Regions from separate parts of the Homo sapiens genome. Here region 1 is linked to region 2. Evidence: fine-mapped expression QTL. A gene starts in region 2. The other region holds a variant in brackets. All regions are shown on one strand. Distances are from middle to middle.

The links. PIP is the estimated chance that this variant, and not a neighbour inherited with it, causes the effect.
Region 1: its variant is the best candidate, but not a certain one, in a credible set for the expression of CA12 in monocytes after LPS (Fairfax 2014, PIP 0.58).

The regions. Positions count from the first base shown.
Region 1 is chr15:63,339,373-63,354,460 of GRCh38, reverse strand. It overlaps CA12 (carbonic anhydrase 12), which reads left to right. Exons shown (of 11, transcript NM_001218.5): 3 at 7,752-7,931; 4 at 8,842-8,984; 5 at 12,364-12,459; 6 at 13,678-13,741; 7 at 14,016-14,173. It overlaps LOC124903506 (a long non-coding RNA gene), which reads right to left. Exons shown (of 3, transcript XR_007064676.1): 2 at 12,540-12,647; 3 at 10,051-10,323. Among named protein-coding and RNA genes, the nearest start is that of CA12, 35 kb to the left of the region's middle. RefSeq lists a cis regulatory region at 8,023, an enhancer at 7,939-8,108 and a silencer at 8,864-9,051. The variant G/T (reference allele first, on the strand shown) is at 7,574.
Region 2 is chr15:63,373,953-63,389,040 of GRCh38, reverse strand. CA12 (carbonic anhydrase 12) reads left to right here and starts at 7,195. Exons shown (of 11, transcript NM_001218.5): 1 at 7,195-7,405; 2 at 13,363-13,383. The coding sequence starts at 7,321. RefSeq lists enhancers at 6,471-6,990, 6,991-7,511.

The DNA of each region.
Region 1 (15,088 bases), 35 kb after region 2:
AGCCCAAGTCTCAACCCTCCGTCTCCAGCTGACCCAAACAAAAATTAGACAAAAGTTTGATGCAAAGTATGGATTAAAGCATCTTTAGAAAATGTGTTTATTTTTATTGATCTATAATGTAAAATCCAAGAAAAAGAGTTGGCCTGCTATGGCAAGTCCAGCTTTGAGCTTTATTCATAACAAGTAACCCTCCCCTTCTAGCCCTCCCTCACTGTCCCGGGACCACCTCTGATTCAGTGGTGATACTGACAAAGGAAAACTCTAACGCTAGTTTGATTCCTCGCCCTCTGTTTGTACATAATAACATCATAAGACCTCATCCATCAATTATTAACCCATGTCCTTGGTCACCTCCTTTCCTTCTGGGCAGGACATTGGGGTTTATGACTGTGCCTCTCCGCCTACCCAGCAGGAAAACAGGTAGAATTCAGCAGGTTGTGGCCTTCTGTGCGGTGGGTCAACCTCTTACCAAGGTGATGCTGTGGGAACCACACTACTGACTGGCTGAACCCACTGGGTTTTTATGAGAAGACATAGATATTTTAATCAGCTTCAGAAGTGAACTGCAGGACCTATAAATATATTTTAAACATGTTTTTAAAATGTAGCTTCTAGGCTGGGTGCAGTGGCTCACATCTATAATCCCAGCACTTTGGGAGGCTGAGGCAGGAGGATCATTTCAGCCCAGGAGTCTGAGACCAGCCTGGGCAATATAGCAAGACCCCATCTCTTTAAAAAAATGGCTTTTACATGCAGACACCATCCTGAGGATGTCTGGTTTCCAGATGGATTTAGAGGGGACATGAAGTCTGCGGTCCCCTCTGAGTCCTGTGGCTTAGCTGTGTTCTCTGTGGCTCTAGCCACAAGAGCGGGACTGTTGGATGACCCCCAGAGAGAGGCAGGTACTAGCCTCCCAACAGGAAGACCTTTCTAACAGATGGAGGAATGTACACAAGCAGGTGTCAAATGATCCTAGCTCAGCCTTGGCACAGGGCAGGACCCAGACCTGGCAAAGGGAGGCCGGATGGATCCCAGACTCTTTCTGAGTCAATGCATCACACATCCCTAGAATATACCAGCCTCTCCACTGCAGCGGGGCCTCTGAGCTTGCTGGGCCCTCTCTAGTGAACGCCATTCCTCACGTTTCACTCATGGTTGGTTCTACTTGTCCTTTAAATCTCAGCTTTAACGGCGCCTCCTCTGGGAAGCCTGCCTGCATCATCTGCTTGACAGGGATCCCTCCATTTTTCTGTTGCAGCCCTCGTTTAATTCCTTTGCAGCGCTCATTGCAGATTGCAATTATTTCCTTGTGCATTGGTTTACTTGTTATTTATTATCAGTCTCTTACACTGGTCTGTGAGTGCCGCAAGGTCAGAGACTAGAGCTGTTTTGTTCTCCATTGCATCTTCAGCACCTAGTACAGTGCCTGACACATACTAGACACATTTGTTGAAGAAATGAATGCATTAACTCCAAAATTAAATTGCACTCCAAGAAGGAGAGCATTTAGAGATTTTTCTCCTTCATTCAACATTTGAGTACTCGTTTTTTATTGCAAATACAATCCATCTTATTAAATGTGTATTCAAATTTGGTACATAATTTTTGATCATTTTCATATAGATACACATGCCTTTCATTATGGTCAGACCTCCTTACAAAACAAACTTTGAGGGACTAACCAAAAGCTATCATTGTCCTGAAATTGTGCCTATTTGTTGAAAAAGGGCGTGTCATCATCTAGAATGTGTAAACTTTGCCACTACAGTGGTATCCTTTGGGGCAAGTTTTGATCTGACTGCGTGTTGGTAGCCGGCCCAAAGAGATGTACCCTGGAGCTTGGGCCCAGGCAGGTTCTCCAGGAAGCTGCCTGCAGTGAGCACTGACACAGACACAGGGGGGTCCACCTCAGAGTATGACCTCCAAGAAGTGTCATGGGGCAGAATTAATGTTGACTCTGGTGCCTGGATCCCCCCACTGTCTTCTCATGGCTACCTTTCATCAGTGAGCCCCTCTTTCTTCTGTCTCCAACCTTCCTTCTCTGGTCTCTTTTGCCGTCTGCATAGCAGTTTGCTCAAGCCTCTTCATAAAAAACAAAAACACAGGCTGGGTGCGGTGGCTCGCGCCTGTATTCCCAGCACTTTGGGAGGCCAAGGCAGGTGGATCGCTTTAGGTCAGGAGTCTGAGACCAGCCTGGCCAACATGGCGAAACCCCATGTCGACTAAAAATATAAAAAATTAGCTGGGCGTGGAGGCACGCACCTGTAATCCCAGCTACTTGGGAGGCTGAGGCAGAAGAATTGCTTGAACCTGGGAGGCGGAGGTTGCAGTGAGCTGAGATTGCACCACTGCACTCCAGCCTTGGTGACAGAGCAAGACTCAGTCTCAAAAACAAAAACAGAAACAAAAAACAAAATCTTTCACATTACCCTCACCTTACCATAACCACCACGCATACACCCTTCTCTCATCCCTTTATGGCTAAATTTCTGAAATGAGCTTAAAAAAACCCTCCACATCCATTCAAGGATGTGTTCAGACATAAGTAGGGATATGACATAAAGTTCTGGTCTTCCAAAGGTCTTTGAAACTCATATTCTGAGCTCTAGTCTGTAATAAGTTTCTGTACTAGTCTGGCTCTAACAGTCACAGGTGAGGCAGGCTAACAATCATCACTGCTTGCTAGTGTGCACAACCCGAGTAGGCTGGCCGAGAAGTTCAAGTCAGGGACTAGAAAGCACTGGGGTAGCTTTGGCAGGACCTGAGCTGGACTTTGAAGAGTGGACGAAATTTGGAAAGGTGCAGAGGAAAGAAGAGGGCATTTGAGCAGATTTTTTCATAACGGCATTTGTGAAGGTGGGTTGGCATAGCCTGTTCTTAGGCTCAGGGAGCTGGCTGAAGCATGGGGCAGGCTGGGGCGGGATGTGGGGGCCTTTGAAGACTTTGACAGGTTGGGGCACTTCAAGGCCATGAAAAACAGCTAGGCTGTGCTTTGTCTTGTTGGGGTGGGGCAGGGCATGCTAGGGAGAAAGGGAGTGTACGGATGGGTGGTGGGGTGGTGCCACCCAAGCCAGGCTATGACAAGATTGATCTGGTTACTGCAGGAGAGCCAGCCTGGCAGTGTAACAAGGAAGGCTGGGGCTGGTTGCCTGTGGGAAGCCTTTGCAGTGTGACATGGCGAGGGCCTAACCCATGGAAGCATGGGAGTCCATGACCCACTAAGGGCAAAGGATAGACCAAGCTGGCTCTGAGATGTTGAGCCTTGGAGGAGCGGGGCCCAGGTGTTCTCTGATGAGGCATTCCACCATCAAGCTGTAATCTAGGCCATAACACATCCTCTAATTGCAATATTGCAAAAAATATATGGACTGTATGTGAACCCTGAAATTTACAAACTGTTAAAAATTTATGACCTATTTGGAAAAATTTGAATTCTAATTGGATTCGGTAATCTTAAGGTATTAATTCTTAACTCTCTAGGTGTGGTCATGGTACTGTGGTTTTAAGAGCCCTTATGTTTTAGAGAAACATATGAAATATATACAGATGAAATATATCTGGATTTGTTTCCAGTTATCCAGGTAGATAAGGGGAGAATGGGCTTAGCATAGATGAGGCAGGACTGTTTCTGAATTGTAAACTGTCCAAGCTGGGTGACATGGGGTTCATTCCACTCCTCTCTCTACATTGTATACATTTGAAATTTTCTGTAAAAACATTCTGGTCCTTGGATAATGCAGGTCCTACACCCTGGGCCTCAAAATTCCCAATCAGAAATCACGAGAGGCATTTTGAGCTGTGCCATGTTAATCTCTTGTTACCTTTCGAAACAGGAATTCTGACCACTTCTGTTTTGCCTAGAGCAGGAAAAACACATAGACAGGAAAGAAATAATGCCTTGGCTTTATTTAGAAAAACAAACTGTGAAAGACACGTGATCCTCCTGTATCACGATCATGGGAGGAGTCCAACCAACTGGAGAGGCGAAGTCAAAACTCAGAAGAGCAAAGGCAAAGTTTTAGCTGGAAATAAATGCTTCTTTTAGGAGAGTCACTCCCAGTGGAGGATTTCTGGCAGTGGAGCACTTGGCATGAGTGTGAAAGCTGACACTGAGTTGGAAAATGGTAGCCCAGGGTGTAGCGGCCAGCATAAGGCCAGCACTGTGCAGTCACATGTCACAGCTCAGGGAACAGAAAGGCCTGCTGTTGTCACCTCTGATATTGGTTGTCCCGGTGCCCACCCTCATGGCACCTCTATCTCTCACATGCCACAAAGACAGGAGGCTGCTCTGACAGTGTCCCCAGCTATGCAAGGCGGGGACACCCACTAGCCATTACATGCTGGGGGAGGGCCCTATGAACTTCCTTGGCAGGCCGTCTCCCAGGCTACAGGGCAGAAATCAGATTTCTTTTTCAATTAGTGCCCCCAAACAGAAACCATTTGCACACAGGTAAGCTAGAAAGCTAGGAGGGTACATTTTGAACCTGAGCAAGTGATCTCATTTTTCCTCCTCTTTTTTGAGGAGAAGAAATACATGAGGGAATTAAGGTGGGTGCACGTTCCCTGGGAAAGGAACAAGCATGAAACAGGTGTTGAGAGTTCAGCTTAGTAAACATGTGAGGGCCCACTCTGTGCCAGGCACTGTGGGAAGTGCAGCGATGGATGAGCCGTGGTCCTTGTCTTCAAGGACAGCGTGGGGAAGCCAGGAAATTCCAGGTGCACAAAATCTCCTGGATAAATACTGAAGGACACATAAGTCCTGTGACCCAAGCAAAGTAACTGTTACTTAGCCAAAGTCAAACTTCCGGCAAATCTCTTAAATCTCTATTTTTCACCCATAAAATGGTGCAATTCTGCCTTGCTTACCCCGTAAGGTTATAGAGTTATAAGGATCAAAGCTACTACAATATAATAACAATGAGGAGGAGGAGGAGGAGGCGAAGACAAGGCTTTCTTGACCTTGCTGACCTACAGACCTGTGACTGGTGCCCAAGGACGAACTCCGCTGTGGATGGCAGCCAGGACCAGGGCAGGTTCCTGATGCAGATGGCTGTCTGATCCCAGCCAGTCCTGGAGCACCGGTGCCCTGTGCCCTCATTCCCGAAGCTGGTTCCCCTGGGCACCTTGTCACATGCCCAGTAGCTGCCTTGACATGAGCAACCTTTCTGACTCATTCAAATTTGCCTGACAGATGGAGAAGGTGCTTAGTCCTAGTATTCTTAATAAATATCAGAGCTTAAGAGCCAGAAGGAACCTTCCAGAACATAGCTTCCACACACATCCCATCCCCACCACTACGCCCACCACCCCCACCATTTGCACGAAGGGCAATGGAGGCTCCAGCAGGGAACATAACCCACTGAAGTGTTGGGACAGCTGATGCTGGAATCTCATTCTCTGGACTCCCCTGGTCCAACATAGCTGCTTCTCTTTCCAAGACAGGTTTTGCCAACACCAACTCTACTGCCTTTAATATCCTTAGTCTTTCCTGCCCCCCAAATACCTTATTTGGTCCTAACTTCCAATAAAGCGTATTTAGAGCAAGAGAAAAAGGAAACATTCCCCAAGTCACATTTTCCCAAGCCCTCTGTTCTTTTTCACTCTTTGGGAAAATGTTTCCTAAATGCCCATGGGGGCACGTGACCCTACTTATAATATGGGTTCACAGAGACGAAGATGAGGGGTCCCTATCTTCACGAGGCTCTCGTTTAGCTATCAGTAAAATGCCCTCTTGATGAAACCTTTTTGAACCTCCACTGTGGGAAAAGAAAACCCTTCTAATCCAGTTCCCTTTAGTCATGTGTGCAAAGAGAAAGCTTCTCAATGATGCATCTCTTTACTTCCTGAGTTTTTTGCATTCATGCCTGGCTGGCAGCTTCCGCCCTGCTGGCTGTGGGCCCAGGCAGTATTGTGAGCACAGAAAAGGCTGGCAGCCTCACTTAGGGAGTCTTACCCTGTGCTGTGTCTCTTCCTGACCCTGGGGTTCTACATGAGGCCTCACGGTTGCTTCATTCTGCTCCCCGCTGCCCCTAAAGCATTCGGTTTGGCCCCCAGCTGAATAATTGTCTTACTCCAGTTTGGCCCTGGAGTGCCTGCTTTGATATCCTCCAGCCTCCCTCTTCCCTAGTCACCATCTTGGTGTAGTTGAGTTATTTTGAGGCCTTGAAAATAAGAATAGTAGAGCTCAGCGGAGACTCTGCCATGCCCAAGTGAGAAGACTGGTGTCCAGTGAAAGGTTGGACTGGAGATTCTGCAATTCCGTCATGCTGTAACATTTCTGAAAATGCATAGCCTAAGGTTGACAGCCTGAAAAATCAGTAGGGTTCCGATGTGTGTGTCCGGACCTAGAAGTAAGAACTAACTAAGCCTGGGACCAACGCCTCATAGCATTTGAAATGAACCTGGGTACCAAGTATCACTTCGGATTCTTCCCACTCTCAGATACGGTCCCCTAGTTAGAGAGCACGATGTAGGGGGTTGGGATTCTGTGGGGCCAATATAACATTTACACCCTTGTGAAACAGTGCAGGGGTCTACAGAAGAATTCCCAGAAGAGGTGGTGTTCCTTTCCCCTTTTCTCTATTTACCCACCTTCCTTGTGTTGAAATACTGATGAACGGACCCCCAGATGGCAAAGCTTGATCCCCAGCTCTGATAGAGCCCACAGGACACCCTGGGTCTACCCTAACGAGCCATGACATGCCAATTCTTTGCTTTTCTGGAGAAACCTTGGCCTGAAAGTCTGTTTAATTACCGTGGAGATAATCTTTTAAACATAGATTTACATTCTTTAAAGACTTTTTCCCTGTGGGAGTAGGAAAGTTCATCTGCACATAGCATGTTTATTTTCATTTCCAGGGGAGGAACTGCTATCTGGTAGTTAGCAAGAAGCTTGAGCCCTGGAGGAATTTCTTTTTTTAAAGTCTGTTCCTCTTCACTGATAGTGTGTCAATTATATTGTAATAATTAGTTTATAGTGTGGTCATATTTTTTTCCAGCTTAAACTCTGCACTTCACTCTGTGATTCCAGGCCTATAATTATTTAACATTTGTCAATCATCCCTATCAGATTGGGTTCTATAGTTACTCTAAATGTGGGTATCAAGAGTCAATGTCCTCAGGGGTTTCTCTTCAGGAAGGTCATACTTGCAAAGCCAGCAGCCACAAAGACCTATTTAGGTTGGTGCAAAAGCAGTTGTGGTTTTTGCCTGAAAGGAATGGCAAAAACCGCAATTATTTTTGCACCAAGATAATACTTGGCACTGTGGTCAGTAAGACACTAATTTTTCCCACCTGGGGTGGCCCCGCAGATTTGCTAAATTCTTCCCCGCTAGAATGCCAGCTTGGATGAGCAGGGGCTCTATTGTATTCAACCTGGCAGCCCCAAGACCCAGAGTAATTCCTGGCTCATAATAGGTACTGGCTAAGCAGATGCTGAATTGCTGAAAGTCAACAGGTCTTGACGTGTGTGTCAAACAGGAACAATGTACAAAATAAAGCAGAGTTCGGTGGCCTTCTGGCTCTGGCCTGTGCAGCCCTAGTCCTTCTTTCCCCACATCACTTAAGAGCAGGT[G/T]GTCCTGAGTGGTTGCTGGACCTGATTCTGGAGGCCAAGACTCTGAGCCTTGAAGATTTACCTCCGGGGATTCAGAAAAGAGGAGAAAAGGAGTAATTGTATTGAACAGAGAATTAGAAGATAAGGAAAATCCCTTTGTGAGAAACTCTAAATCTTGAGCATGGATCTCTGTGTCCAGGTCCTGATGGGGAGAATAGCTGGTCCAAGAAGTACCCGTCGTGTGGGGGCCTGCTGCAGTCCCCCATAGACCTGCACAGTGACATCCTCCAGTATGACGCCAGCCTCACGCCCCTCGAGTTCCAAGGCTACAATCTGTCTGCCAACAAGCAGTTTCTCCTGACCAACAATGGCCATTCAGGTGAGGGAGAGGCCTTGGAGACCTGAGGGGTATGTCTGAGTCTCCCTCAGCTGCCAGGCCTGTCCTTTTCCATCTGGCAGGGAGGTGTTCCGTGGAAGCATCCAGGAGGAGGGGTGGGGCGGGGCGGGGGTGTCTTTGAGAGATTCCAGGAGCACTCTCTCCAGGGGATGCTGGAGGCTCTGGGCTCTGAGGATCCTGCCAGGGCCGCACTTCCCAGAAGAAGCACATCTCTCAGGATGGGGCAGGAGACCGGCCTGAGCACTGTAGTTCATTGGCTGTGCAGCTGGAGTGAATTCTGGACCATAAACGATTCAAGGAACCACACAGTTTGGCGGGGGGTGCCCAGGCTTTGGAGTCAGACCAACCTGGATTTGAACTCTGGCTTGACTGCTTACGAGCCATGAGAATCTAGGTGAGAATTTTAGTCTCCTTGAGCTTCCATCTGGAAATGGACATATTGATGGATACCGTGAAGACTGGAGATTATGTACGTTGGGGTCTGGCATACAGAGTGAAGTAAATGCTTCATAAATAGCAGTTATCGTTGCTGTTGCTATATAATTCTAAAGCTTGGAAGGTACTTCACTAAAGGTGTCTGATCCATCAATATGTAAATAAACACCCATCCGTTGGTCTAGTGTTAGCGTTTCTGGCATCACTTTCCAAGGTGAACCAAGAAGGTGCTGGTGCCACTGGAGTTGCTTTGGGGAAAAGGGAACATTCTCAGGGAAAGAGCCCAGGTGTCTGACCTTTAGGCTGCATCTCTGCTCCGCACCTCACTCCATCCACCTGCCTCTCTCTGGGCTCCAGGGGGTGGCAGCAGGGGTGGAGGGAGCATTGCCTACCTGACTGCTCTCTGGCAGTGCACAGCTGGCCGGGGCTCTGAAGGCTGCTCCTCCACTCCCCGCAGTGAAGCTGAACCTGCCCTCGGACATGCACATCCAGGGCCTCCAGTCTCGCTACAGTGCCACGCAGCTGCACCTGCACTGGGGGAACCCGAATGACCCGCACGGCTCTGAGCACACCGTCAGCGGACAGCACTTCGCCGCCGAGGTAAGTAGGGCTGCCAGTCTGGCAGAGGCTGCTCTGCAGTGGGTGGTGTGGCACCTTCTCGACCTGGCTGCTGTGCAGATAACACCAGAGCATGGGACAGGCTGCCTTCAGGCTCTCTGCCCCACCTCTGGCCCTGGCACAAGGGGCGCAGCCACTCCACTAGCCTGTAGCTCATCTGCACTGTCCTGGTCCCTTTCTTCTCCTGAACATGCTAAGTTTGTCCCTGTGTCTTTTACTGAGTGATGCTGCTGGGGAGGCAGTATTCCCAGGGTGGCCCAGTGGGACATACATGCCCTTCTTTTAGACATTGCCTTCCTATCTGTGCAGATAAAAATCTCCTGCTGACTCACACTGGGCTCACTGCTCCCCCAAACTTCTCAGCCTTTCTTCATATGTCATGCTGTTTGCATCATTTTGATGCTATCTTTCCCTCTCTGGGCATGGGTTGTGTTTAGAACATGGGGACATGGGTCTAGGGCCACCCTTCTACCTGGCCACAAGTCTAGGGGTACCTGGCAGTCTAATGTGCAGGGCATCACGGCAAGCAGACTCACTAGGGACAAGATGTCAGCCAGCACAGCATCGTGTCATGTTGCCTTGAGAAGCTACTCCGAAATGCCAAAAGAAAATTAGAAGACGGGCAGAGCATTTGTCCTATGCAATTGCAGGATGGGGTGGGGCAAGGAGGGGGTTGAGATGCTCCATTTTGGCACTCCAATAGCCCTGAACTGGGGGTGTGGCTCTGAATATTTACAGGGAAATACAAGCAGATAAATGCTGCTGACTGATCAGCCAGGGGAGTCCGTGGTAAATAGAGACCATTCCCCTCCAGTCATAACTGCTGAACTGCTTAATGTTTCAGACTAATCATAGGTCTACTTGCAAGCATGGAAGGGATAGGATCTGGTTCAATAGGATGGTACCACTGGAGGTTCACATATTTCAGAGCGGCCCTTCCCTGAAGCTCAAGAACTGAAATTTCCTCCAGGCTAATTGCAGTGTTGAGACTTCTGCTTCCCCCATGGGGAATAAAGAAGGTGTAAACCAAAAAGTGTCTGAGACTCAATCCATTTAGAAGTTTATTTTGCCAAGGTTAAGGACACATGCCCGGGAGACAGGGAGACAAGTCTGTGCCTTTCTACAAAGATGATTTTGAGGGCTTCAATATTTAAAGGGGAAAGGGCAGACACTGGGGAAAGAGGGAGAAATGTTTAAAAGGTGTGGGGAGGTAAGAGGCAAGAGGTCGCATTCTTCTGAGTTTTTGATCAGCCGTTCACATGTGAGAGAGGGGTAGAGGAATAGTCACTTGTGCATTCATCTAGCTCAGCGAATCTGCATTCTTACAAAATAAAACAGACATGGGCAGAGGAAGCAATTAGAAATGCATTTGTCTCAGGTGAGCAGAGGGATGACTTTGAGTTCTATCCTTTGTCCTGAACCCATGAAGATAAGTTATCCATTTACATTGTCACGGTGAAATTCAACAGAACTGTTTTAGGGTAAAGACCTTGCGGCCCACAGTGAATTTCCTAGTGGGCAAAATGTGAGGTGTGTTGCTTTTTTATCTTTGTAGCCGTCTTATTTAGGAATAGAATGGGAGGCAGCTCCCAGCTTGACTTTTCTCTTTGGCTTAGTGATTTGGGGGTCTCGAGATTTATTTTCCTTTCACAAAGGAGGTTAGGGTGTAGATTGGCAGGGTTTATGTGTTTTAAAATATTTCTACTTCTTGTATTTTCTGCTATTAAGTCACAGCATCAGACCAAGAGTCTGGTTAAGATGGACCATAAATGCCAATACTAGAGAAAAGGCATCAGGGTGTCCCTAAAGTGGGTCCTCTAAGGAAGGACCTTGGAAGTGTAGTGGTTCTTTGGGATGGAGTTCATATAAGAAGATTCTGGTGGGGCATGTTGGCTCACACCTATAATCCCAGCACTTTGGGAGGCTGAGACGGGTGGATCACCGGAGGTCAGGAGTTCGAGACCAGCCTGACCAACATGGTGAAACCCCATCTCTACTAAAAATGCAAAATTAGCCGGGCTTGGTGGCACATGCCTGTAATCCTAGCTACTCGGGAGGCTGAGGCAGGGGAATCGCTTGAACCTGGGAGGCGGAGGTTGCGGTGAGCCAAGATCACGCCATTGCACTCCAGCCTGGGCAACAAGAGCGAAACTCCATTAAAAAAAAAAAAAAAAAAAAAGATTCTTTCTATCTTAATCTCCTCAACAGGGAGCTCCTTTATGCTTGGATTAGTCTTCACTTCCTCTGAGCACAATAAGAAAAGTACAGACAAACCACAAGCTCAAAGGTCAGCTGTAAAAGGAAATAGGGGCTTAGGACCTCAGGGGTTTTAATCATATAGAATTCAGCTCTGTTTCTCAAAGTGATGCCAGGCCGAGATGGTGTGGGCAGTGTGGCAGACTAAGTCCTTTGAGGGGAAGATGGTGAAGTAGGAGCTCTGAAGAAATCCTTAATAGAGGACCACTTAAAAGAAGAAATAATTTGATATATAATTTTTTTTAAGTTAGAAGGAGCCACTTAAAGTTCGAAATGGGAAAATTAAGCTGTATTCAATAACATATGTTGAACTGTATTTATAAACACATGAGATGGAAAAGGATGAATGAAAAGAGAAAAGAAATAGAGTTAAAATCTCAATATGTCATAGTCTCAAGGACAAAGAACCAGCAAAAATGCATGGGTTGTGTAAACCAAAAATAAATTCTAAGCCCCCCACCCCACCCACCTGCCATCTGAATGGACCTCTCCTCTTGACCAAGGGCATTCCAAAGTTAACATGAAAACTAGTTCAGGCCATGATGGGAAGAGGGAGTTGGACATGACCCATTATACCCTCCTCCCTTTTGGAATTTAGGAAAAGCCCACATTCATTAACATCAACACAGACCTTAGGTCTGATCAGAAATATTTACAGTCTATTCTCTCTGAAGCCTGCTACTTGTATTCTTCCTCTGCATGATAAAATCTTGGTCTCTACAACCCCTTATTGGAACCCAGACATTCCTTTCTATTGATGATAACTCTCAACCGATTGCCAGTCAGAAAAAAGTTAAATCTACCTATGTCCTGGAAGCCTCCAATTTGAGTTTTCCTGCCCTTCCAGATCAAACCAGTGTATCTTGTACGTATTGATTGATGTATTATGTCTCTAAAATGTATCAAAACAAGCCATGCCCTGACCACCTTGGGCACATGTCCTTATCCTTGGCAAAATAAGGGGAGGGTCTGAGAGACCTAACCTAGTCTGGGGGGCTGAGGGGGCTGGGGTTCTGTCCTCACAGTTGGAGTCAAGTCTTCTGCAGAAGCGACAGGCTCCCATGAGTCGCTTATCTCCTAATGGGTGGCTTCTCCCCCACTGCAGCTGCACATTGTCCATTATAACTCAGACCTTTATCCTGACGCCAGCACTGCCAGCAACAAGTCAGAAGGCCTCGCTGTCCTGGCTGTTCTCATTGAGGTAAGAGATATTTAAAAGGTTCTTAGGTGAAATTTGAAGCAGGGATGAGATTGGGATTCCACCTTTTGTTCCATGCATACCTGTTGATAATCAGCTGTTCCTGTATCGACTCCGTGTCAACTCCAGAGCAGGGGGTATCCTCCTGTAGTGCACCTTCTCTCTTGGCCTGGAGGCAGCACTTTCTGTGCCTGGGCAGCAGAAATGGGGAATGTTCTTTGGTCCGTTGGAAAAACGGGCCCCAACATCTAGCCCTGTTGCATAAGGCATGGAATTGCCCAGTTGGGGAGGACCTGTGCTGGAAAGGGATCATCAAACTCCATCTGCCCCATCAGATGCCTGAACTCTTGATACAACTCCTGCCATCCAAGCTCCTCTAGATCCAAGGGACCTCTAGATCAGTGGTCCCCAACCTTTTTGGCACCAGGGACCAGTTTCATAGAAGACAATTTTTCCACGGACCATGGACCAGGGAGGGAGATGGTTTTGGGATGAAACTGTTCCACCTCAGATCATCAAGCATTAGTTAGATTCCGTAAGGAATACACAGCCTAGATCCCTTGCATGCGCAGTTCACAATAGGGCTTGTGCTCCTATGAGAATGGGAGGCCTCTGCTGATTTGACAGGGGGCGGAGCTCAGGCTGTAATGCTTGCTTGCCCGCTGCTCACCTCCTGCTGTGCGGCCCAGTTCCTAACAGGCCACAGACCGGTACTGGTCCACAGCCTGGGGGCTGGGCACCCCTGCTCTATATGTACCCTGGAATGAATTCTTTTTTTATCCCAAGATAGAGGAATGTCTTCTGATTGGCTTGCATGTTTTTTTTTCCTAATGAGGCTGTATGTACCTCATTTCCCAACATGCTCATTTGTCTGACGTGGCTTTTGTGAACTCAGAGCTCCTTAAGTTCTGTGTGACATGGATGTTAGTCAAAGCCTTCAGGCTCATATCTGGATCATCAAGAGCACACACGGTACCCTATGCCCCAGGACATTCAAGCCCAACTCCTTAAGCTGAAAACAGGACGTCCTGAGATGCAAGAGGCAGGACCATTACACTAACTCCCAAGAGCCTAGTGATCCATCATAATTGTCCAGTAAAGTGGATCCTTCAGGCAGTGGTGGCAACATACCCACAGCTTTGCCCTTCTGATAGCAATCGTCAATCCTGGCTCAGCCTATCCTGTTCTGTCCCAGTTTAACCTGCCCTGTCTCTGTTGCAGATGGGCTCCTTCAATCCGTCCTATGACAAGATCTTCAGTCACCTTCAACATGTAAAGTACAAAGGTGAGGGGTCCTTGCATGCATATTCACTCTCTGCTGGAGAAGGAGGTAGTCAGCCCTGTGTGACTTTAAGAAAAGCAAACACAAGGGGCAGGTGCTGTCTGTGTTCACCAGGTTAAGAGCAGCAGGTTGTTGAACAATGTTGCAACCAGGTCCTGGGGTTAGATGACCCTGAAAGGGGCTAGTTCATGTTTCTAGGCTCAGTCGCTCTGTTCAGCTGCACTTATGCCCTACGGAGGGAGGCTGACACTATCACCTCTGCAACATGTCTCTCTAGGCCAGGAAGCATTCGTCCCGGGATTCAACATTGAAGAGCTGCTTCCGGAGAGGACCGCTGAATATTACCGCTACCGGGGGTCCCTGACCACACCCCCTTGCAACCCCACTGTGCTCTGGACAGTTTTCCGAAACCCCGTGCAAATTTCCCAGGAGCAGGTAACTGTCGTGCCAGACTCAGCCAGAGTCCACGCGGCACCTCAGTCCCCATCATCCTCCATATCACAATCAATGACTTGATTTCCTCATTTAGTTTCATTGGCAGCTCTTCAAAACCTCTCCAAATATCACAGGTGTCTGAAAGCACCGCAGAAATTCCAGGCTGAGCTTCAAAAGAAGTCAAGCTAGGCAAATGAATAGATGTCTCCTAGTTCTTTTTTAAAAAAAAGAGCTCTAAATCTGCATTTGCTAATATATCCTCAGTGGCTGGGTGGTATTCACTTCCCAGGCAGGAGAGAGCCTGGTTCCTTTACAGGGCAGAATAAAGACAGGATCAGATGAAATCATTTAAGAGATGGGATTGCAGCAATGACTAAGTGAGGGTCCCTGCCCCCAAGAAGCTCAAGGTCTAGTGCAAACTGGGGAACAAAATCCTTAGCCATCACCTCTAAAGCTTCTTATTTGATAGGAGATGAGAGAGAAGAGTAGAAGTCTGTGGGATCACCCGCGGGTTAGTGACAAAGCTGAGACCCAAAGTTAGGTCATCTGAGTTCCATGTCACTGCTCATACCTGTCCTCCACAGCCTAAATTCATGAGAAGAAAAATGGCTCCCCAGGAGACGGGGCTGGGGCCAGCACTACACCCTGGCTCACAGCCCCACGCCAGCTTCATGCGTCCAGGGCAGCCTCACAGCTGCTCCTCTTTACAGTAAGCTTCTGCTCTGAGTCACCTGGTAAATGGCAGCAGGTGGGTGGACAGGAATGAGGACATGATGAACCAAGAGATGGATGAAACATGTGGGGAAGCAGCAACATCCTACCTCAGAAACTGCCTTGGGAAAGGGTTATATAATCTATGCAGGTGCATGAAAATGCCATGGAACCCGCAATCAGATGGCCTGTGAAACTCTTAAC
Region 2 (15,088 bases):
ATGTTGGCCATGCTGGTCTCGAACTCCTGACCTCAGGTGATCCGCCCGCCTCAGCTTCCCAAAGTGCTGGGATTACAGGCATGAGCCACCGTGCCTGGCTGGACTCTCATCCCTTTAACCAGGAAGAAATCAAGATTCAAAGAGGTTGAATGACTGGCCCAGAGTCACACAGGGTGGTGAATGGTGGAGTTTCAAAACCCAGGTTCGTATGATGCCAAAGCTCTGCCCCCTATACCATTCTGCCTGCCTGACTCCGAACGGAAGTTGTCAGATTTGATATTAGCACTACTCACGTCAGGCTGGCACTTGTGAGCTTGCTGGAATGTGGCCTGTGAATACACTATGGTTTAGAAGACGGGTAGGAGAGGACAGTGCTTCAGACTGAGAACAAGAAGAACAGGAAGGATATGGACCAAATCCCTGAGGCTAGAGGAGAGTGGGTTCCCCAGCAGGTGTGAAAAATGAGAAGGCTGTGAGAAACCTTAAGCTATTACAGTCTAACTATATCTCCTAAATGTCTGAGTGTCAGCTAACCATGACATTGTGAATAATGCACCTGGAAAGAGGTGACACTATTGCACCAAGGTTTACTTCACGTAAAATGCTAAGTTTCCCCATGCATAGAAATTTGAATTATTATGATGTTTAAATTAATCACACAGAGTGCTTTATAAAAGTCTCAGTGAAGAGCTGTTATTCCCCACTCAACAGAAGTAGGAGCTGAAGGACTCAGGGATCAAGTAACCAGACAAGAGTCATCATGGTAACTGGTGTCAGGTATGCAGTGAGAATTTACAATCCCTTGTTGGAATCCAGTTTTTATTTTCTTAGATTAGTAAACCAAAGCTGAGATCAAACACACTTCCTTTCTTGTGAAGTCCACTCTTAGGAGTGACATCTTATGTACGACAAATGTCGTTATTTATTTCTTCCCAAAGTGCTCTCACATATACGGCCTCATCCCACTGCCAACCCTGTGTGGAGTTAGACATTCTTATTTCGACTTACAGATTAGAAAACAGAAGCAGAAACACGGCAAGGGACTTGCTGACATTCCACTGCTGGCTCCTGGCAGAGTCAGAAGCCTGGCATTCTTTCCTCCAGGTCACACTGTCCTCCAACTGATCCCGCCTGAAACTGAGCAGGGCAGCGAGGGTTCACACAGGGGTTACGCCTCCAAGCCATCACCGTGAAAGGGAAGACGCAGATGTGAATAAAACTACAAAACTGGCTATATTTTAAAACACAGACATTGGTACCCAGATCAATGGGTCTATGTGAGTCTTGGCCTAGAGGTTCCCTCAGCCACTGCCCAGTCAAAGGATACAATGTGGACTTTTCCTTCCTTCTTCCCTCCTTCCTCCCTCTTCTCCCTTCCTCCCCCTTCCCTCTCTGCCTCTGTCTTGTCTGGCCTTCCTAAGTCAAAGCAAACCTCGTTAATGTAACAGAAGAGCTATTTGGTATGGCTCACATTCTCCTTCCTTTGCTTGAGACCTACGTCGATTCAAAGCTCTGAGCTCTTCTTTTGGCAAATGTTCTATCCACTGATCACAGAGTATGATACAGGGTCCCTTGGTCCCTCAGACACAGCCATATCCCATGCTGAGCATTATTTGATTGCTACAATCGGTACACGTGCCTCTGATCAACAAACAAACGATCACAGCATCTAGAAAATTGGAGAACCGTAGGCCAGGCATGGTGGCTCATGCTTGTAATCCCAGCACTTTCAGAGGCTGAGGTAGGCAGATCACTTCAGGCCAGGAGTTCAAGACCAGCCTGGCCAACATAGTAAAACCCCATCTCTACCAAAAATACAAAAATTAGTCAGGTGTGGTGGCACACGCCTGTAGTCCCAGCTACTCAGGAGGCTGAGGTAGGAGAATCACTTCAACCTGGGAGGCGGAGGTTGCAGTGAGCAGAGATCACACCACTGCACTGCAGCCTGGGCGACAGAGAAGACTGTCCAAAAAAAAAAAAAAAAAAAAGAAAAGAAAAGAAGGAAAACTGGAGAATCCTCCTCTTAGAGGCACCCAGTAAGAAAACATCTCCATCTGAGGTATCTGTAGGACAGCCATGAAAAGAGCCTGCCTGGGCCTTGGAGACAAAATCATCTGGGTTCCTCATGAACTAGAAAAGATTCAACTTCTCCAAGCCTCAGATTCCTCATCTATAAAATGGCAAACCTAACACTATCCCTGCATGTTGTTGTAAGAATAAAGTGTCAAGCACAGTGGCAGGCAAACAGTAGGTGCTCACTAAATGTCTATTTTCCTCCCAGCAGTCCTTTCTTTAGCTCCATATAAAGGTGCATTCCCAATTGAGTGACACCATTTGAAGAGTTCATTCTTATCTTAAGAAATAAAATTATCACCTTAAGAAACAAAATTCTCTATACTCTAACCTTTATGCCTGAAAGGCTAACAACTAGCTATGTCAGGGCAAATGCCACCAAATGGCACTAGGTTTGGGAAAGAAGAGCCTGGTATGTGCTGTGCATTTCAAAGGTTTTATGAAGTCACAAAACATAATCCTTATACTGATGATGTCTTCCTCACCACCCCAGGACAGAGTGGGCCCCTCTCAGTCATATCTCAACCTTCTATTGCACTCATTAGAGTTGTAATTATATAGTTATTCATGAGATTATTTGTTTTATGTTTGTGCACTCTCCAAGAGCCTAGCATAGTGCCTGGCACATAGAAGATGAATGAATGAATGAATGAAGAAAATGTCCACTGGCCTTATCACCTTCCAGCCATATATCAATTCTATGATGACTCAGGGGTATGGATTACACCTTCATTTTACAGAGGATGAAAGCTTGCATCACGGTCAAGGTCAGCCATTGAGGAAGTGGTGGGGCAGGCACTTCAGCCAACCCAGACTTCCTAACACCAAATCCTTGTTCATTCCTGCTTCTCTGCCCCTTGACTCACCAGCCTCACCCTTGTGTCTATTCAGATGGTAACATCCTAGGGGGTACCATTCCCTGTCTAGGCATGTCATTTGGTGGCCAATTGCCACATTTTGAGTGCAGAAGGTCTACTTTCTACCCTAACTCATTGAGCAATGGGTTATTTATTGGCTGACAACAGCCCCAGCTGATGATGGCACAGCAAGCCCTTGCATGTTCATCTGCACAAGCCTGAGGAAGCAGACAAAGGATTCCCAGAGTTGGGAACTTAAGCTGGTTGGGTCTGTGCTGTTTGTCAGGGGGGGATCCTTGACATTCAACTTGAATACCTGTGGTCATTCCATTCATAATAATAATAATAATTCTGGGTCTCAGTTTACATGCTCAATTCCCTTTTAATTGCTATCCATTATTTACTAATTAACCAAGTTTCTGACACAGCCATGCAGTAAACATCTCAGCCCTGTTCATTCTGTCTATGAAACCCAGTTCACAATCTAGCCTTACTGGTCTATGAAGTCCACCTGTTTCTGCCATTTTAACCTCTCCATCTCTGGGGATCTCTGGAGAATACTTAGAGGTGCATGTTCCAGGAGACAATGAACTTAATGTTTAGACAGACATGATGGGTGAACACCTGGAGTGGGAATACCAAAATATGTGTGCATGGCCCAGTTTACCTTTAACTGGTTGTGACATGCGCAACAAGTGATTTCACCTCCACAGATTCGGTCTCTGCGTCTTTGAGCCTGCAGTGGTTTCTCCCCAAGCTCTGTGTTCCTCTAGTCCATTTAATCTTCTAAACAGACAGACTGCCCTTGATGACAAATCTGAACAAGAGAAACACTCCTGCACCACTCCAGAGCTCACTCGAGGCCCTCTATCAGGCAGAAAAGATGATCCCTAAGCCTACTGTGGTCTGGAAGTGCTTGTAACAAGATTGTCTTTGTAACAACTTCCTTAAGGAGACTTCAAAGCCCTTTATTAACCCACACAGTAGCTGAGCTGGTAGGGACAGAGCAGTAACACCCCTTGAAATGTGGGTGGCATCTGCTTTTTGGTGGCTCTTGGAGGAGAAGTTACTCCATCCCTTCAAACCCACCACGGACAAGTGGCTTCATTGGTCACTAAGGCTGGCCTGAGAGTGTGCACAGGCTGAGGGTCAGCACAGATGTGAGATCAGAGAGGGCTTGTCTGGCTGCTGTGGCCAAGAGAAGAGGGCATGACAGGCCAGGTCACAAACCCAGGGGTCCTGTACCAGAACTGGGGTGGACACCCTTCCGCAGCCCATGTGACCTGAGCAGTGTGCATAGGCAGCAGTGAGTAGGATCATAGAGCGGGGAGGAAACCGAGCCTGGCCCCTGCAGCGGTGCAGAGACACACGGAGGGCCCAGGGAAGCCAGAAGCACAAATGACTACAGTGGTGGCAACAGCAGTGGGAAGATTTAGGGGGTATTGGGGCAGCAGGTTAACAAGACTAGAGAAACACTCCTGTTTCTCTAGCACAGCCTGTAGGTCTAGCACAGCCTGTAGGGACAGAAAGGTGTGATCCCTTTCCTCCCCCATCATAAAGGTCACAGTTGACACTCAAATAACAAAAGACAGGCCAACAAGTGACACAAGAGACTTCAGAAATGAAGACCCAAAGACTCAGGGAGAACGGTGTTTCTGCTTAGGTTTGATGAAGAACATGGATGGCCGTATAGAAATGTGATTGGAGAGAAGGGTGTGATCTCATAGTGATAGACTGAGGGGAACCCAGCAAGGCCTGTCCGTTCCAATTCTTCTTGACCTCTCTGTGTAGCATTGCTTTCTCCTGGGTATGGGGCAGGACCCCTCTCGAATGAGGGTCTTTAAAGGAGAAGGGAGAGGGGAGAGAGTGATGTTTCTAGATTTTATGGCTTGCTGTGGAGGAGAGGGGCTCTACTTTCTATGACCTGCCTGGGGAAGAGGGATTCTGGTTTCTATGATTCACTTAGCGGGAGAAGAAGGGGCAGGAGACAGGAGGATGGGAGAAGGTCAGAGAGACCTTGTTTCTGAGGCCTTTTCAGTTTCCTTCAGTTCAAAGTACTCAGCATGCCAAGGTGCCATACTTTGGGGTATCATGTTCTAAGCCCCCCAAAAAAGTGCCTGACACACAACGGGTGCTCAGTAAATAATGTAAGTCCCTTTCTTCTGCTGCCACCCCAAAAGAGGGACCCTCTCTCCCAGCTTCCTAGTGAGGATGGAATGATGTATTGAACCAGCATGAGTCCCATCTACTTACCCGTTACTAAGGGGAATTGTGATAAGCTCTTCATGTGTACCCCACTGTGCTGTTCTCCTATTCTCAGTTCATCTCTTTGCATCTCAACTTGGAAGGTAAGAACTTAATCAGGATGCACTGAACAATTGGCAGAAACTCATGTGAATGTAACTATCTTGTCCAGTTCCTTAACCTGTGCTAAGTCCAGGCAGGCACCTGAAGAAAAAAAAAAAAAAGCATGAAGGAGGCTTTTGCCCAAATGGCACTATACTTGGGGGATTCTGAGTAGGGCTGAAACAGCCTTTGCAAAAATTATAACTGAGGAAATTATGGCAGTGACAAAGATCAGACCTAAATGACTCAGTCTTTCTTCTAACTTTCATGCTGTCCTTATTCATTCCTGGGCATAGGCCAAACTAACCTTAGAAAGGAATTCAGTTTATGGTTTGACTCAGAAACAAAATCAATAATAGCCCTTTCCCGAAAAGACCCCCTTCTTGCCTGGGTGCCAGTCTGCCTTTGTACGATTAATCTATTAGTTACAACATTAGAAATTATGGTTTAGGGGTCCTGCGGCGTCAGGCTGCAAGAGTCTGAACCTTCCCAAGTTGCTGCTGGGGATAACATCGCTATTGTAAAATCTAACATCCTATTTTGCAGACCCTGCACTGGATGGATCAGCTGACACCACTCAGACCGTGTGTGATCTGGCTCAACCAGTTCTGCGATCCCACCCAGGAACAGAAGACTGCAAGAAAACGTTACTTCAACCCCCCTGTGATCCCATCTGCAACCTGACCAATCAGCACTCCCCAAGTCCCAAGCCCCTATCTGCCAAATTATCTTTAAAAACTCCCAGAGGCAGGGTGCAGTGGTTCAACGCCTGTAATCCCAGCACTTTAGGTGGATCACGAGATCAAGAGATCAAGACCAGCCTGGCCAACATGGTGAAACCCCGTCTCTACTAAAAATACAAAAATTAGCTGGGTGTGGCGGCGCGTGCCTGTAATCCCAGCTACCCAGGAGGCTGAGGCAGGAGAATCGCTTGAACCCGTGAGGCAGAGGTTGCAGTGAGCCAAGACCATGCCACTGCATTTCAGCCTGGGCGACAGAGGGAGACTCCGTCTGAACAAACAAACAAACAAACAACTCCCGGAATGCTTGGGGAGACTGATTTGAGTACTGGAATCCCAGTACTTTAGGAGGCCAAGGTAGGTGGATCATTTGAGGTCAGGAGTTCCAGACCAGCCTGGCCAACATGGTGAAACCCCGTCTCTACTAAAATTAGAAAAATTAGCCGGGTGTGGTGGTGGGCGCCTGTAATCCCAGCACTTTGGGAAGCCAAGGCAGGTGAATTATCTGAGGTCGGGAGTTTAAGGCCAGCCTTAAACTGGCGAAACCCCGCCTCTACTAAAAATACAAAAATTATCTGGGCATGGTGGCATGTGCCTGTAATCCCAGCTACTCGGGAGGCTGAGGCAGGAGAATCGCTTGAACCCGGGAGGCGGAGGTTGCAGTGAGCCGAGATCACGCTATTGCACTCCGGCCTGGGCAACAGAGCGAGACTCCGTCTCAAACAAACAAACAAAGGAACGAAAACCTCCGGTCTCCGGCACGGCAAGCTCTGCGTGAATTACTTTCTCCATTGCAACTCCCCTGTCTTGATAAATGGGCTCTGTCTAAGCAGCGGGCAAGGTGAACTCGTTGGGCTGTTACAGGACCAGTGACAGACCAAGGGCATGCCACTGAAGGAATCCCTAGACGCACCCTTCTGGATGTGAGACAGGCGGATCTCACCCACGCCTGCCAGCAGCTCCTCGGAGAACTGTGTTCCTGGGTCAGCCCTGGCCCAGAGGAGCGCCGGGGACCCGCAGAGTGCTGCTGAAGTCAAGGCTACAACTCACCTAGGATCTGGGGCGCCAGCCCTCCGGTGGGCAGGGCGTTCTCCTCCCCCACCCCCTCCCCGCACGATGACATCAAGTGTTTGGCGTTGAGTTGCTCCATAAAAGCTGCCCGGGGAAGCCAGGAGAGCGAAGGGCGGACGTACTCGCCACGGCACCCAGGCTGCGCGCACGCGGTCCCGGTGTGCAGCTGGAGAGCGAGCGGCCACCGGGAGCCCCCGGCACAGCCCGCGCCCGCCCCGCAGGAGCCCGCGAAGATGCCCCGGCGCAGCCTGCACGCGGCGGCCGTGCTCCTGCTGGTGATCTTAAAGGAACAGCCTTCCAGCCCGGCCCCAGTGAACGGTAAAGTTTCCGCCTGCTTCTTTCCTAACACTCCTGAGCGCTCAGCCGCCCCTGGGCTGAAGGCTCTTCAATGATAAAGTAAAATCATTGCTGCGGGGAGCAGGGAAGGTGTAGTACCAAATAGTAGATTCTCAAGAAAGGATGCTCCGTTTTCCTTTGCTGAGGTTGGGTCGGGAAGCACGTTGCTTTCTAGTGGCGCTTGGCGCAGATTTGGTGTTAAAATGTTTGCGTGTACTCCCGGGCACCGCCAGCTCTGAAGATGTGGCTTGGGAACTTGCTAACCAGGGAGGAGATGCAAAGCCAAGATTTAAAACAGCGTTCCCCTGATCCACGTTTAGAAAGTAGAGACATGACTGTGGCATTCTGATTGGGGTAAGCACAGAGAAAGGTTTGCTGTGCCCCTGTGCAGAACCCGCAGACAGTGGTAGGCGCTTTTCTTTGGAGGAGAGGATCTTTACCATTAAGTCTTACCTACAAGTCAAAGGGATGATGCATCCCATTCTTAATCATTGTTTTTCTCCAGGAGGGCTCTACTATGCTGAATGTACGTGTGTGTGCACGTACACACACACACGCACGCGCGCACGCACACAAACCACACACACACACACACACACACACACAGCATATTTCTGATTGTAATTAGAACACTAAATCCCAAAAGGCTGGAGGCTGAGGGACTGAATGGAGGCTCCGTGGAGTGACAGGAGGAGGTGGCAGAGGGGACCTGAACTGTGGGCTCACGCCGGGCCAGTGAGCTAACACGTGTACAGCCAAGGCTGGTTCATTAATCTTTTGGAATAAGAAAGTGATTTTGGACCGAAAGTGATTTTACTGGCTGAAACTAGATTCTTCCTGGCGAGGCAGTGGTGGTGGGAAATGTGTCCTGCTCAGCAGCATAAAAGCTCTGAGCCTCCTCTCTTGGAGGTCACAGTGCCCATGGGGAAGGGCAGGGGAGCCAGGCTGTGGATAACTCTTAATTAAATTCCAGTCAACTAGCTGGCATGATGTGCTTGATATTATCTCCCTCATCTGGTCAGGGAGAAACAGAAGCGATGTAACAGAAGTTGGGAGAAAGGAGCGATGTAAAAGTGAAAATCAAGTTTTAAAACCACAAACTTTACATGTTTCCTTTTACGAAAGCTGCACTGAGACCAAAGTTTCCCTGGAAATCTCTTTAGTCCTAAGTTGCTCCAAGACCAAAGGGAGAAACAGCCATTAGTTGGCCCTCTTTCCTATAGCTGGTTGCTCCTCTCACTCTGGGGCAGCTCTGCCTCCCTTCTCTCTCTTTTCCTGCCCTTCCCTGTTCTCTTCCCTCCCTCCCCTTCCTTTCTTCCCTACTTTCCCTGCTCTTCCTCTTCCCTCTCCCTTTCCCTCCTCCTTATCTCCTCTCCCAATTCTCCAAGTTGGGACTGGGGAAGTTTGTAGTCAAAACTCCACTTTCGCCTCACTCTGAGGAAGGAGACTGCCTACCCCTGGGTAGAGCACAGCTTTTATTCTGTAAATTCTCATGCAGTTTCCTTGGGTTTTTAACTGCCTTAGAGGACAGGTCAAAGCAAAAATCACTGAGGTGTAGAATGTCAGCATGAACCCAAAGTTGGAGGTGGAGAGGAGTTAAGCTGAGTAATGGGGTCAAAGTGTGATCTGCTCTCTGCCTGGTGCATTTAAACTTCCAGCATTGGAGAATGTTCAAGAACAATGTCAGGGGCCCAGGAGGGAGCATAATAATGTGAAGTCAAGTGTCTTCTGGAGAAACCCTTGGAATTCTTAGTTGCCGTGGCTTTGGGGGGCATTTCAGTGAATTCTGCAGAGCTTGCCCTGCCCAAACCTGGTGTGGAGAGCCAGGCAGTCTTGGGCTACCCAGGAGATGGTTACTCAGGGAAAGTTCTAGCACCCAGCACAGGAAGCAGGCAGGGCCCAGGACCTCTGATATGGATCTTGGTAAATACCATTTTCTCTGGGCATTCCCTCCAGGGGAACCTCCCTGCCCAGTACCAGCTGGGTCTGCAGGTTCTAACAGGTTTCAGGCTGAGCCTCCCAGGTTTCCCAGATGGAACAGATAACCTTCCTTGGGAAGGAAACTATTCCCCTCCAGGAAGGGCCTGCTCCCTCAGGATGCCACTGAGGCCTTGGCCTGGCCTCGCTTGTGGAATCAGTTTAATCCTTTTAAGCCTTCTGTTCTTACAGCTAGAAGTGGGGAACCAGGGGGTGCAATTCCTGAATAAAGCACACTTTCGTGCGCGTGCACACACACACACGCACACATACACACACTTTTAGAGAGACTTCCTGAGGTCAGAGCTGAGCTGGGGCCCTGATCCTCACCCGATGAACCCCCTTGACTCACCATCCTCACTTACAACGCCGCTTCTCCCCAGCCCTCCAGCTCCTGAGCCCCTCCAGACACTGCCATTTATACCCAAAGTGCCGAGTCTGGAGTCCCAAGCCAGCTCACTCACAGAGAGGAGGGCAGGGAATGTTGCTCTGGAGGCTGCTGCCTTTCAACAAGTCCCCAGTCCTATGTCACCACCGCGACCTCACAGTCCCAGATGTCCACTCTATGACTTTTAGCCCTGAGCTTTCCAGAGTGTGATGCTGAGGCCTCATCTGAGGATGAGAACTCCAACAACAGGGAAAACCTTGATTAGCGAGCCCTGGGAGGGTAGCAGAAGATGTAGGGTATAAGGCTATGATTTGAATGTGAGCAGGTACAATGCAAACTGCTGGCAAGGCAGCAGTGCTCAGGCAGCAGATGTGTTTCTAGTGGCCTCCAGGATCACTGGAGTGGCCTGTGCCTCCTCAGGGGAAAAGTAAGGGTGAACTCCTCTGTTATTTGTGGAATTTTACATCCTGGGCCTCCAACTGTTCTGCCTGCTAAGAGGTAATGATCTGGCTTATTATATCTCTAAGGTCTGGGATTACATCTTAATAATGAACCTCTCACACAAAAGACTGAAGAAAATGTCCAGAAGAGGTTTTATGTCTTCTATAGCTTGGTTTGAAAGCAATGCTTTCTTTATTTTTTTTCATTGTTGTTTCAGCAAAGGGGTGAGCAGTAAACTTGGGGGTCACATACAAGTTTGGTTTCCCCGTGGTTCTGAATGTCTAATTACTAATTCAAGGGAGGTTGATCTTGGGACCCTCAACTCTCAATGCACCCATAGCTGGTTTCAGGGGAGTCTGTGGACCTTCTGAAATGACTTGTATATAAAACTTTATGTGTCTAAGCTTAGGGAAATTTTTTTTTTGAGACAGAGTCTCGCTCTGTCACCCATTCTGGAGTGCAATGGCACAATCTCAGCTCACTGCAACCTCCGCCTCCCGGGTTCAAGCAATTCTCCTGCCTCAGCCTCCCCAGCAGCTGGGATTACAGGCACCCGCCACCACGCCTGCCTAATTTTTGTATTTTTAGTAGAGACAGGGTTTCACCATGTTGGCCAGGCTGGTCTCGAACTCCTGACCTCAGGCGATCTGCCTGTCTTGGTCTTCCAAAGTGCTGGGATTACAGGGGTGAGCCACCGTACCCAGCCAGCTTAGGGAAATTTTTACTGGGAGAGGTCCATAATACTCATCGGATACTCCAGGGGGTCTGGACTCCTCCACTTAACTACTCCAAAGATTGAGGAGACTTGAAGATTCCCTAAGTTCATGGCACTAATGCTAAATTAATGGTAAATGCGGTGGGACTCCTTCCAGTGGGAATATGATATTGGTCAGGACACTTCACCTTGGTGGACTTTCATTTCCTCACCTACAAAAGGAGGAGATGGGCTATGAGTGTAAGAAAGAGATCTGAACTCTTCTCTTCCAGGGTGGGATGTCAATAAATAATGCCTAAACATAAAACAATCAAGGTAAAACAATATTAGCATGTTATATAGAGATATGGAGATAATAGCAAAAGAATCATTTTAAAAAGATCCAAAGTGGTTGCTCTAGGGAGCAGTACATGGTTAGGGAATGTCAGGGAACTGAGGTTTTTGTTACACAGCTTTGTAGAACCATCTGACTTTCTAAACCACGTGCAAGTGTAATTTGATAAAAATTACCAATTACATTGGAAAATTAAAAACAAAATTAATTACAAACACTGAGGCAAAGAAATGGAACAGAATAACAAAAAATATGAGATTAAACCGGCTTTTTTTTAAAAAAAAAGCCAAGTTCACTTTTTAACTTTTAAAAAACACAATTTCCTTAAGTAGGAAATGCCAGGAGTGATAAGTGACCAGATTGCTTGTCACTTAAGTTTTACTGCAAACTAATTCCCACGAGAGAAAGGGGATGTGAGGTGCTTCCCCACAAGGGTACGCTTTTCCATCTGTACCCTTGTGGGTCGAGAACCACGGAGACCCTGGGAAAAGTTGGGAGGCAGGGATTTAGGAGTTGCACAGTCCCCTCATTGGATGAGTCACCTGAGACACACAGTGGGATGCTTCTCTACTCAGGGTCCCTTCCTCGGAGGTGAAGAGGAAGGCCGGCAGGCAGGGTCACAAGAGCACAGCTCTGCACTTGTGAAAAAGACCTTTTTTGACATAGGAACGAAGAACATTTATGCATGAAGAGTGTGGAGTGCGAAGTAGTGGGTGACTTTTGTTCTCTTTCTGGCAGAACTTTGCCTACACATTCCTACTACCCCTGGAATTCTAACTCAGATGTGGGTAGCAGCTTCCTCAAAGAGAAACTTTTTCCCAGCTGGGTGCTGTGGCTCACACCTGTAATCCCAGCCCTTTGGGAGGCTGGAGTGGGCAGATCGCTTGAGCCCAGGAGTTTGAGATCAGCCTGGGCAACATGGTGAAACTCCATCTCTGTGAAAAATACAAAAATTAGCCAGGTGTGGTGGTGCGCGCCTGTAATCCCAGCTACTAGGGAGGCTGAGGTGGGAGGATTGCTTGAGCCCAGGAGGTTGAGGCTGCAGTGAGCTGCGATCACACCACTGTACTCCAGTGACAGAGTGAGACCCTGTCTCACAAAAAGAAAGAGAAAGAGAGAAAGAAAAAGAAAAAGAAGAAAGAGAGAGAGCGAGAGAGAGAGAAAGAAAGAAAGAAAGAAAGAAAGAAAGAAAGAAAGAAAGAAAGGAAAGAAAGAGAGTGGGAGGGGAGAGACAGAGAGAGAGAGAAAATGTAAAGTGGGAAAAAGCAAGACACAGAACACTATTTCCAGTATGCCAATGTTTGTGTGAGGAGAAAGAGGGAGATCAATGCATATGTGTGTGTAGCCATGCCATGAAAGGGCTCCCAATCATCAGCTAACCTCCTTGTCTAATGGAAGCAGGGAAGGTAGAGTGGGAAGAAGAGCTTCTACTGTATATACCATTTGATGGCTTTTGGGTTTTGAGCCACATGAAATTATTGCCTATTCAGGTAATAAAGTTTAGCTTCTCTAAGATGTCTGGAAGGCACCTGCTCAAGAACCCCCTCCTGCTTCCATGAGCCTCTGCATGAACCAACTGCCTGTGCTGCTGACTGGAGCACAGTTGCCCTGAGAAGCTGCTGTTCTGATGCAGACTCAGAAAAAGTTTCAATTTGGCCGGGCATGGTGGCTCACGCCTATAATCCCAGCACTTTGGGAGACCAAGGCAGGCGGATCACCTGAGGTCGGGAGTTTGAGACCAGCCTGACCAACATGGAGAAACCCCATCTCTACTAAAAATACAAAATTAACCAGGCGTGACGGTGCGTGCCTGTAATCCCAGCTACTCAGGAGGCTGAGGCAGGAGAATTGCTTGAACCCAGGAGGCAGAGGTTGCAGTGAGCCGAGATCGCGCCACTGCACTCCAGCCTGGGCAACAAGAGCAATACTCCACCTTGAAAAAAAAAAAAAAGAAAAAGAAAAAGTTTCAATTTCTGGGCATCGACCTCCTTTTCAATTTCGCTCATATCAAAACAAAATCTGTAGTGTTTTCCATTACTCATCTGGTTCCATTGTACTTACTTACTGTGTTTTGTTCTTTGTAGGTTCCAAGTGGACTTATTTTGGTAAGTAGAGATTTTAAATACTTTTTTGTTGAAAAGAAAATAGAAATGGTTGTATTTAATGAGAAAAACAGAAACTTCATGCTCTGTGGAGGTGATTTTGAAGGGTCGGAAGCACAGTTCTTGTATTGTAGAAAGAGAGTACAAAGGCATCTCCTAAGAACACTTCAACTTGGGTTGCATACTGCACTTTCTCCAAGCAGGCGAGCCTGCTCCAGGCACAGGACTGTGAGTCATAGTGTCCAGGCTTCAGATTCCTGCAAGGATTTCTACCAAACCTCCAAGATTTGGAGGTAACTTGCCCCACCTCCGGACTGCAAGGGTCCTGGGCAGGAGAGAGCCTTTCTCCCTTGCAGGACACATATCCTATTATAAACAAAGAAGAAAGGGCTCCTCTCTGAAAGTTTGGCTGAGGTCCCAGAACTTAAGCTGTCAGTATGTCTAGAATTAACTTCTTGTTGCCGTGATTGTAAGCTAGCGATGGATGAAGAGGTGTTGGTCAGTGCTTAGTGAAAGAGGGATGCTTGTCTTAAATGAAGCGAGAGGAGCACCAGTGTGCTTGTTGCCTGGGCTTTCTGTGGGACGGTCTCCAAGAGCATGTTAGCCCCATCTGGCAGGCCTGCCAGAGAAGCAGCTGGAAATCAGCTTAGCTGGAGAGTTGCAGTGAATTAGAAATTGGTCATTGGCTGGAATGGATGTGGCAGGCCAGACACCTGAGTCCCCTGGCCAGTGCGGGAATGTTGATAATGTCTTGTTGGGGCACAGCCACAGAAGATGCACAAGATCGATTGTTTTGGTAGCAGAAGGGTGGAACTGACTCACTGGCACAGGAGGCATTTTAAGCAAGCAGGGTTGTGGCCAAAGTTAAAGCCACAGGATGCAATGGCTGTGGGCGGGGACAGGCGGGAAGTTGATTACTACAGTGGAAGCACCGTCCAGAGAAAGATCTGACACCAATTTGCATAGGTCAGCCTTTGGAGGTTCACCAGCCCAAGATGCATAGAAAAGTCACTGAACTGACCAACCAGCTACCCACAGGCCAAGGTCCCCTCAGCCCCAGCACTGCACGGCTCCGTTATTGCTAACATCCCTTATGTACTGATTATGTGCACAGCACATTGCTAAGTGGGTGGGTAATAGAAGGGTAGGCTGTGGTCCATAGTTGGGAATTACTTAAAGCTCACAATTCAAAGCAGAACATAATAGGTAATAATAACATCATAAACAAATGCTTCAGAGATCTGAGTGCTCAAAGGAGGGCGAGTGTGCTAGGGCTAGATGGTCAGGGAAGGCCTCCTGGAGGAGGAGGGCTTTCACCTGGGCCTTGGAAGATAAGGAGGATTCGGTGAGTGGGGAGTGGGTGCTGTTGGCTAAGGTGATGTTGAGCAGAAGCAAGAAAGAGCAAGGTGGTGTTCGAGGAAAGCATGTGGAGAAGGGTTGATAGCGGAGTCACGGGCTCTAAGGTCAGAGAGATAGGCTGGGTCAAACAGGGGAGGTGTGGAGGGTCAGGGCAGGCCTTTCCCACTTTGTCCTGCTCCTGGAGGGGCAGGGCAGGGAGTAAGTCTGTGTTTTAGGAAGAGTTACTTGGTGGTAGGAGGTGGAGGGGGAAGGATGGAGGGAGGCAGGAAGGTGTTTGGCCTGTGGAGAAACCCCGTTCCGTGTCTTCACATCCAGTTTACAGTGGTGGCAGTGAGGGGGAAGGCCAGGC